Regions from separate parts of the Homo sapiens genome. Here region 2 is linked to region 1. The links come from fine-mapping of genetic effects on gene expression. A gene starts in region 1. The other region holds a variant in brackets. All regions are shown on one strand. Distances are from middle to middle. Region 1 holds the start of LINC00539 (long intergenic non-protein coding RNA 539). Region 2 overlaps LINC00539 (long intergenic non-protein coding RNA 539).

What was found. PIP is the estimated chance that this variant, and not a neighbour inherited with it, causes the effect.
Region 2: its variant is the best candidate, but not a certain one, in a credible set for the expression of LINC00539 in whole blood (TOPMed, PIP 0.59).

Annotation. Positions count from the first base shown.
Region 1 is chr13:21,342,943-21,347,333 of GRCh38, reverse strand. LINC00539 (long intergenic non-protein coding RNA 539) reads left to right here and starts at 2,475. Exons shown (of 3, transcript NR_103841.1): 1 at 2,475-2,668. It also overlaps the pseudogene MIPEPP3. RefSeq lists a silencer at 534-737.
Region 2 is chr13:21,322,308-21,326,698 of GRCh38, reverse strand. All of the region lies in intron 2 of LINC00539 (long intergenic non-protein coding RNA 539), which reads left to right. It also overlaps the pseudogene MIPEPP3. Among named protein-coding and RNA genes, the nearest start is that of LINC00539, 20 kb to the left of the region's middle. The variant T/A (reference allele first, on the strand shown) is at 2,670.

The sequences.
Region 1 (4,391 bases):
GAGGAAATGGAGGCTCCAGGTGGTAAGTCATTGCCCAGGCCACACTGCTCCTCAGAGGCAGAGATGAGATCAGAACCCACTTCTGTCTGACCCCAAAGCCTGTGCCAAATGCCTTGCTCAATGGCCTCTTGCAGGAAAGGGCAGTGTCCCATTACAGCCAGACCCTAGCATAGTACCAGGCTCTGCAGGCTCTGTATCACTTTCCCAAGGCCCAGAGGGGGCACACCACAAAATGCTGGGGGCGTAGGAAGAAGATATCAGAAATTCTAGTTGTGATTTCCTATTATCCTAGTAAAATATCAACTTTTATGTCATTTGTGATGCATTTATTAGCTCAGTAGCACATTTATAGAATTTATAAATCAATAAACCTTCGCATTGTGGAACACATGCTTAAGTTCATTTTACTGATATTGAAAATGAGGAAAAAGACTAGAGTCACATGTTCAAGACAGTGACCAGGGTCCACCCCAGGGCTCCTCGGGGGCCAGAAAGGACGGCTTGCCGAGGGGGCCTCCATCTTCCCTGCAGCATTGTTTGTTCCCCGGGATCCTTCCAGGCCTGCTCGACTCTCATCTCAGTCCCCTGTGCATTTCTGTAGGAAGCTCACTTTTACTAGACCTGAGAGGGCTGGTTGTGTGCTCTGCTGCTGTTTGCCGTCTGCGGGGGCTCTCCAGTGGTCCAGTGGGCATTACAGGAGCACAGGGAGGATGAGGGGAATGAAGCGGGGAGTGAAGGGCACACACACTTAGACCCCACCGGCCACCTACAGAAGGCCTGAGGGGACAGCCCTTTCTGAAGTGATGCCTTCCTCTGTTGGGAAGCCAGGAGCCTCCCCTGGTGGGATCCATGAGGCCCTGGGTGTGGGGCAGGATATGTGGGACGGGCACAGAGCCCCTTCCATTTCCTTCTCAGGCCAGAATCATAACTGTCCATGCATTCCTTAAAAGCAGAGAGGGACCCTCTCCTTCCCCATCCATCAACAGCCTTCGGAGTCTAATTACATGCACGGAGCTTCAGTTCCCTTCTCTGTAAAATGGGGCTAATACTAATAAGACCTCTTCAGGGCAGTGTAGGAAGTCAATGAAACTCCAACATCTCCAAAACCACCCAGCAGATCACAGGATCTTGAAGTAAGCACAGTGTTTGGCATACAGTAGGCGCTCATCAATGCTGGTTCCTTTCACTCTCTGCCACTTGCTGGCTATGTGTGACTTAACCTCCCAATGCCTCCGTTTCTTCATTTTGAAGTGAAAGATGATGCCTATCCTCAACTTCAGACGAGATCCGGCACGTTCAGGGTGGTATGGCCGTAGACCCCAACTTCAAAACAACAGGCACACCCATTCAATTCAGGTAGCACCCTCCAAATGTGCCATGGGCTTAAGAGGCAGGAAGAGAGCCTGGTATGAGCCCACGGCTTCGGCTCCTGTTGCTCACTCTCTGCAGATCCTTGTGCAGTTCTCTGGGGTCACTTGCTGGTCTTTTTGAGTTTCAGTTTTCTTATTTGTAAGCTGGGGATGGTCATATCTCATTAGATTTTTTGGAGGACTAAATGGGACAATAAATATAAAACGCTCAGTACAAAACTTAGTCTATGGTCAGTGTTCAACAAATACTAGTCACTGGTAATAGTAGAACCACCTGCATTATGACACTATTATTTCTAGGCTCTTATGAGGATTCTCATTTACCAGGCATACTAGCCCTGCAAAACGGACACTATTGCTTCCATTATACAGATGAGGAAACTGAGGCTCAGAGAAGCTAAGTAACTTCTTCAAGGTTGCCCAGGCTGGGCGCAGTGGCTCATGCCTGTAATCCCAGCACTTGGGAGGCCGAGGAGGGCAGATTACTTGAGGGGAGGAGTTTGAGGACAGCCTGGCCAACATGACAAAACCCCGTCAATAAAAAATATAAAAATCAGCCAGGCGTGGTGGCACATGCCCGTAGTCCCAGCTACTCAGGAGGCTGAGGCAGGAGAATCGCTTGAACCAGGGAGGCAGGACTTGAGCATGCCACTGCACTCCAGCCTGGGCAATAGAGCAAGACTCTGTCTCAAAAACAACAAAACAAAACCAAACCAAAAAAAGGTTGCCCGGTTGCCCAGTGACAGAGCCAAGTCTTGCTTTCCAAGCTTGGGCTCACTCTCCTACACTAACTACCTGGCCCCATGCTGCCCAGTCCTGGGCTAGCTGCAGGAGGCTGCCGCATTACCCACCTCAAGCCACACAAGCACTGGCAGTAACAAGAGGCCGTAGAGAACCTAGAGTTCTCCAGCGGATGTGGTTCTCTGGCTGCCGTGGGCTGCCAGGGATCCCTTAGATCGCGGACTCCACAGTTCTTTCTTGCCACCTCCAGAAGGAGGCTGCAGCCCCATGAGCCAGGCAGCAGGAAGGGAGGAAGTCTCGCTTCTTGCCAGACACATTGTTTAACTGCAACAGTCAGTCCTCCAAAAACTCTGCCGGAAGTCCACCCCAGAAACTCAAGGGAGGAAACTGACTGCCTTCTTGGGGTTTTCTTAACTGTGCTTTTTCTGCTCTGCAGGAAAGATGCAACCTGGGCCAGAGGCCCCTGGAGGTTGTGCCTGAACCCAGACAGATCACACAAACCTGAGCAGCCATTAGCCGCTGTGTGGGCTCCTTTGCACTGTGGGGCTGCTCCTGGGGTAAGTGTGTGTCTTTGTGTGTGTGTGGGGTTCGGGGGCTGGGATGGCTGACTTACAAAGGACACGCTGTGGCCCAGCCCTGGGCAGCATCCAGCCTGCTTAGGTGGCCTTCTGTGGGCTTGGCCAAAAACACTGAGGCCTTTCTCTGTTTCACCTTCTTGTGCCAACTTGGCTGTGTGTGAACAAAGAATCACAAGCACACACCTGAGTTCACACTTGTGTAAAATTGGACTGAAGAGCTTGGTGAATCAAAGTTCAAGAAGGGTGACTTGGCCGGGCATGGTGGCTCAGTCCTGTAATCCTAGCACTTTGGGAGGCTGAGGGGGAGCAGATCACTTGAACCCAGGAGTTCAAGACCAGCTTGGGCAACACAGAAAGACCCTGTCTCTACAAAAAAATTTAAAAATTAGCTAGGTGTAGTGAGGTGTGCCTATATTCCCAGCTACTCTGGAGGCTGAGGTGGGAGGACTGCTTGAGCCTGGGAGGTTGAGGCTGCAGTGAGCTGTGATCATTCCATTGCACTCCAGCTTGGGTGACAGAGTGGGACCCCATCTCTTAAATTTAAAAAAGAGAAAGGAGAAGGAGAAGGAGGAGAAGGAGAAGGAGGAGGAGAGGGAGAGGAGAAGAAGAAGGAAGAGGAGGAGGAGGCGGGGGGGAGGGGGAGGAGGAGAAGAAGGAGAAGGGAGGAGATGGAGAAGGAGGGCACCTCAGAAGCCCTCAATAAAAACAGGGAGGAAGAGAACAAACACATCAAAGCTGCTGAGTCTGGTGCCAAGAGCAGGGGACTTAAAAGCTGTGTGACTTTGTCATTTGAGTTAACCTCTCTGATCCTCAACTTCTTGTTTGTGAAGTAGGAATAAGATTTTTTTGTGAGTTTGTTCTGAGGCTCATTAGTAACGTACGTAAAGCTGTTGGCTCCTGGTCTCTCTTATCATTCAGGGTTAAGCTTCGAAGTGGGCACAGGTGCTGGCAGCTATGGAATGGTGGGGAGGTTGCAGGGTGGGTCCCCTGGTCACAGAGAGCTTCTCACTGCCAGGGCTCAGAAGCCCCCTCACTGAGAGGCCTCACTGCCAGGGTTCAGAGCTCCCTCACTGGAGAGGGACTTCTTGAGTGTTGCAAGCTACATGGACAGACCATCTATGAGATCAAGCGTCCAGGCCCCTGGGCCAAGCAAATCTTGGGCCAAGATTGTGTGGCTTTAGGGGACATTATGGAGCCTCTGAGGGCCTCAGCTCCTCCTCTGTGAACTGGGGACTGTGGTGGTGATAATGGTACCTACGCATACAGAGATTGACAAGTACTGCTGAAACACAGCTAGGGATGTCTGTCTCACATCAAAAGGCTTTCAAACAGCTGTTTTTAATAATAATAATTATTAATTATATTATAGTTATTAATATTTACTTATATTATTATATGTAATAATTATATATTAATTACATTATCATATTAATTATTAAAAATAGAATAATAATTATTATTAGCCCTGGGAGAAGGTTATCATGAATTTTTTTTGGAGGGAGGTCAGATGACAGCTTGTCAAGGTAACAGAGTGCAAGAGAAGAGCCTGCCTCGGTTGGGGGTGGTCAGGGCCTGGGCACCCCACGGAGACACAGGGGAGCCTAGGGGAGGACTGAGACCCCTTCTCTTGCTCAATCAACTTTTTCAAGTCAACAGTGACATGTGTGCCAGGCTCTGACCCCTGATCACAGCTTCCCCTGAC
Region 2 (4,391 bases), 21 kb after region 1:
TCAGGCTTGGGGAGCCATCTCCGCCTCGGGGCTCGCAGACAGGGCTTCTCTGCCAAAGCAGCACCTCGGGGCGTGTTCTCCCACCCATCTGTGTTCAGGCATCCCTTCCCTCGCATCTGGATTTTGTTTAGGCCTATTTGCAATTCCTTAAAAAAAATCTAAGAAATAGTTGGAGCCTGAAAGAGAGCTGGCCAATGAAACGCCCCGTTGGGGCATTACCGCATCGGTGAGTGGCTGCCCTGAGGCGATGGCTGCGTTTCCGGGGCACCGCCGTGCGCCGGTGCCCACGCGTACCAGGCTTCAGGGGAGCACTCGGGAAGCGCGGGGGGTCGCGTGCCCTTGGCCGGAGGCCTGGTCGCCCGCTGGCCTCGCCATTCTCGGCTCCGCTGCTGTTGCCTGCGCGCCTGTGGCGGAGCAAGCCTGCCTCCAGGGCAGCCTCACTGCCGGGATCCTGGGCAGACCTCCCACGTGATAACCGTGATCACGGTGTTGATGCTCACTCTGGGGCAAGGGTGCTCACGTGTTCTCGTAATTGGGCGGAGTAGCCCTTCCTTCAAAGTCAGCCCCGGTCCCCTTGCACTGTGCAGCCCCTCTCTGCCGGACCCTGCCCGCATTAAATCTCCCCTTAACCTCTAAAATGCTCATTGCCAGCGCCCTTCGTTTGGTATTTGTAGCAGATACTGTCTCCTGCTGTAGCGCCATGTCTGTTCCCCCTTTCTACCATGATATAAAACCTCCTGATTTTTAGCTGGGCGCATGGTTCTGGAATCATGACTATGTTCCCAATTCCCTTGCAACTAGATGTGACTAAGTTCTGGCCAATGGGATGGTCATGTTCTACTTCCAGGAAGTGTCCCTAAAATAAGGGAATATGTCTTTTTAGGTCCCTTCCTCTCTCCAGCTGTCTGGAATGGAGCTACCATGTCTGGTGCCCAAGCAGCCAGCTCTGACCCAGAGTTAACATATTATGGATTGTGGAGCCACAGGATGGAGTAGCCTGGGTCTGATGGTTCTGTTAGTCAAGGCTAGTCAAAGAAGCAGGACCAACAGGAAATACATATGTTTATGTATGTATATGTTATGTATATGCTATGTATACACATACACACACACACAGATACACAGAGAGAGAGAGAGTTAAGAAAGTGGATCATGTGATTGTGGGGCTGGCAAGTTCAAAATCTGCAGACCCACAGAAGAGCTGATGTTGCAGCTCAAGTCTGAAGGCAATTTGGAGGCAGAATTCCCACTTCTTCAGGGGACCTCAGTCTTTTCTCTTAAAGCCTTTTACTGATTGAATGAGGCCCACCCACATTATGAAGGGTCATTTGCTTTACTCAAAGTTTACTGATTTAAATGTTAATCACATAAAAAAAACCTTCACATCAATGCTGGTGGGTGATTGAAGGTGGTAAGCAAGGAGTGCCAAGGTCAAATTTGGATTTCAGAAAAATCTCTCTGAAACCAGTGATGGGTAGAGGAGAGTGAGATTGCAATCAGAGAGTCCGGTTAAGGGTTGATGTATAAAGATAGGTAGAAGATAGATACAAAGGGACAGTGGATGGTGGGAAGAGGAGAACTGAACAGCACATTGGCAGGAGGAATAAGGAAGAGGGAAAACCGAGGGAAAATCCCAAGTGTCTCATTTGAGAGGCTTAGGGGGATGATGATGTCACCAACTAAAGTCGAGAATGCAGCTGATTTCCCCTTTTGTGGTGGTGAGCCTGGTGCAGCATGAAACAATTCATTTGCTTTTAGGCATGTTGAGTTTTATCTGCCTTTGAGACATCCACACAGGGATTCCAGCAGGCAGTCTGATATGCTAGCATGGAGCTCAAGTCTGGTTGGAATCCAGATTTCTATGTCTGTTTCCATCCAGCAATTAAATTTCCAAGAGCAGTGAACCTTCCCATCACACTTGCATGTCTCGGTCCTAGATCTTCCAAACACGCATGACTATTTGCTTTTGTTTTCCTTTTTGGCCATGTTATCCCAATAAGATCAATTTCAGAAAGGATGTAGGCACCATTGAGGACCCCTTGCTGCACGATAAAGACCCAACTGTAATTCATAACAGACATGAATCGTATTCTACTGTTCTGGGGGTCTAATTTTTTTTTTTAATTCAGAATCTTTGAATCTCTCCCCCAAAGACCTAAGACTAGCTTGAATGTTAGAAGGATCTGTCTCTGGGCTGTATGGAGAAGTGTGGCTGCTATATGAGAGCAGATTCTCATGGAAAAAACATTTTTCCCCCATGGAATTTTCTTCCATGAGTCTAAACCCATCCTGGCTCAGGGCCCTCCCAGTCTCCTGCACTGAGCAAGCAGGTAGGGAGAGAGAAAAGAGGGGTGGTCTGGAGTTTTAGGATCTGCATTTGAATCTCTCCTCTTGATTTGTGACCCTGGGCAAGGCTCTGCCAATCTCTTGTTACCTAGCACCTGGTCTATGCCAGGTCCCAGAGCTTTTTGGGTTCTATCTGGGCCTCAGCATCCACATTGGACAAAAAGGGTAAATATTCCTGCCATGCAGGGTTATTATGACAAATGCAATGAAATAATAAATGTGGAAGGGCTTCTCACAGTGCCTGCCTCAGAGTGGAAACTCAATAAATACTAGGGCATTCTGTGTCTGAAAATCTCACCTCTAATTATTCTCTTTTCCTTCCC[T/A]ATTATACAAAACAGCAGCAGCAGTAACAGCGACCACAAAATGCACTCCAAGATACTTCTAACCATTTCTTGCTGGGGGAATGTTTGCATCCTTGGTTAGTTAAAACTTTTGTGTTCCTCCCATGTCAGAAGCCCCTGGATCTTGTGTGAAGCTGTGCATTCCCTGATTAGTTTGTTTCTGTCCTTCTGTGGCTTGTTCTAAAGGGCTTTGCTGCTGCCTTCATCTGGGGAAATTCACACACTAATGCAGTGGTATCTCATCCCAATCTATTAGGTGTGACAACTACTGGCAAGAAATAGATTTGTGTTTAATTCTTTGTTGCCCAGCAGGGACCTCTATCACCCAAAGGGAAACAGCCGTCTATCTACGAAGCTGTGATCTCCCCTACAAGCAAGAGAACTCAATTGCCAGGAGGTCTTTGCTTTTTCTGGCTTCCAGAGAATGCAGAAATTTCAAGGAGCCACTATTGGGCTCCTTCCCTATAGGATGTTGGGCCAGGCAACAGAACAAACCTCCTGAGGCACTTCTACCTGGGAATGCCCTCCTGAGGCCAATGGCAGCCCTCTGATGAAGATACTATAGTATTTATTTTTTGTACACGCTGGTGATCATCCAGTGTACATCTCTGCTTAGTGAACCTTCATGAACTGGAGGCTGAATATTCTCATCCTGCATTGATAGAACCACGTAGGCTGGTTCTAGGCTGTTTTCTGTGCAACACTCAACATGACAATAATAATGATGATGATGCTAATGATGATTGTAAAATCCGCAGTAGTTGCCATTTATTGCCCTATTTGGCTTGTAAGACTTGGCAGATCACAGTGACATACACACACACACACTCTCTCTCTCTCTCTCTCTCTACTGTGTGCCAGGGACTGGACAAAGCACTTTGCATGCATTATAACACTTTTCCTAACAATCCTGCAGCAGGCAGCAGTAGCATCCCCGCTTTATAACTAAGGAAGGTAGAGTTCAAAGAGGTGAAGAACTTGCCTTGAAGTTCAAGGCCATACAGCCCAAAGTGGCAGAATCAGACCTGTACCCAAGTCCATCTGCACAAAGCTGGCGCTTCCACCCTGTACAACATGGTGTGTTTCCAGTGGGCTGTGACTCTCTGGTGGTGGAACCAGCCTTGTCAATTGCTGTCTGCCACATCCAGTCTGACCTGGCTGCCTGGGCATTCTCCCACGCCACGGGCAGCAGTGGTTCTTGCTGCCAGGGCTCCAGGGCATGGGCAGCAGATGGGAGGGAAGGAAGGCCAGCTGTGCAGCTCTGCCAAGCTGAGAGGCGGGGTGCCTATTGATTGACTGAAATTCGATTTGTTGACACAAACTGCCAGCATTTCACAGTGATGAAAGGATGGCCCACCAACCTCATAACAAGCAGAGATTTCCCTGAGGGTCACCAGAGCTGCTGATGTGGCTCCTCTGTGAGGAGAAGAAAGCAATTAGGAGAATGGATGAGGTTATTAGGTCTTATTGCTTCCCTCAGCTCCTGCACACACTGAGTGCTGTGCGGCGTGGGATTTCAGGCTCCCTGTCCTACGTGCTGCGGATTCTGTTTGCGCCTCTTCCACTGCAAAAAGCCAGCTGGGGGACAAACAGCTCATGTACGCTGACTCCAAGCATGTGGAGAATGCACACACAGATTTAGGACACCAAAAGAAACCTGCAGGTGGAACCAGCTTTAGCAGACTTTAAAAATAACAAGATCAT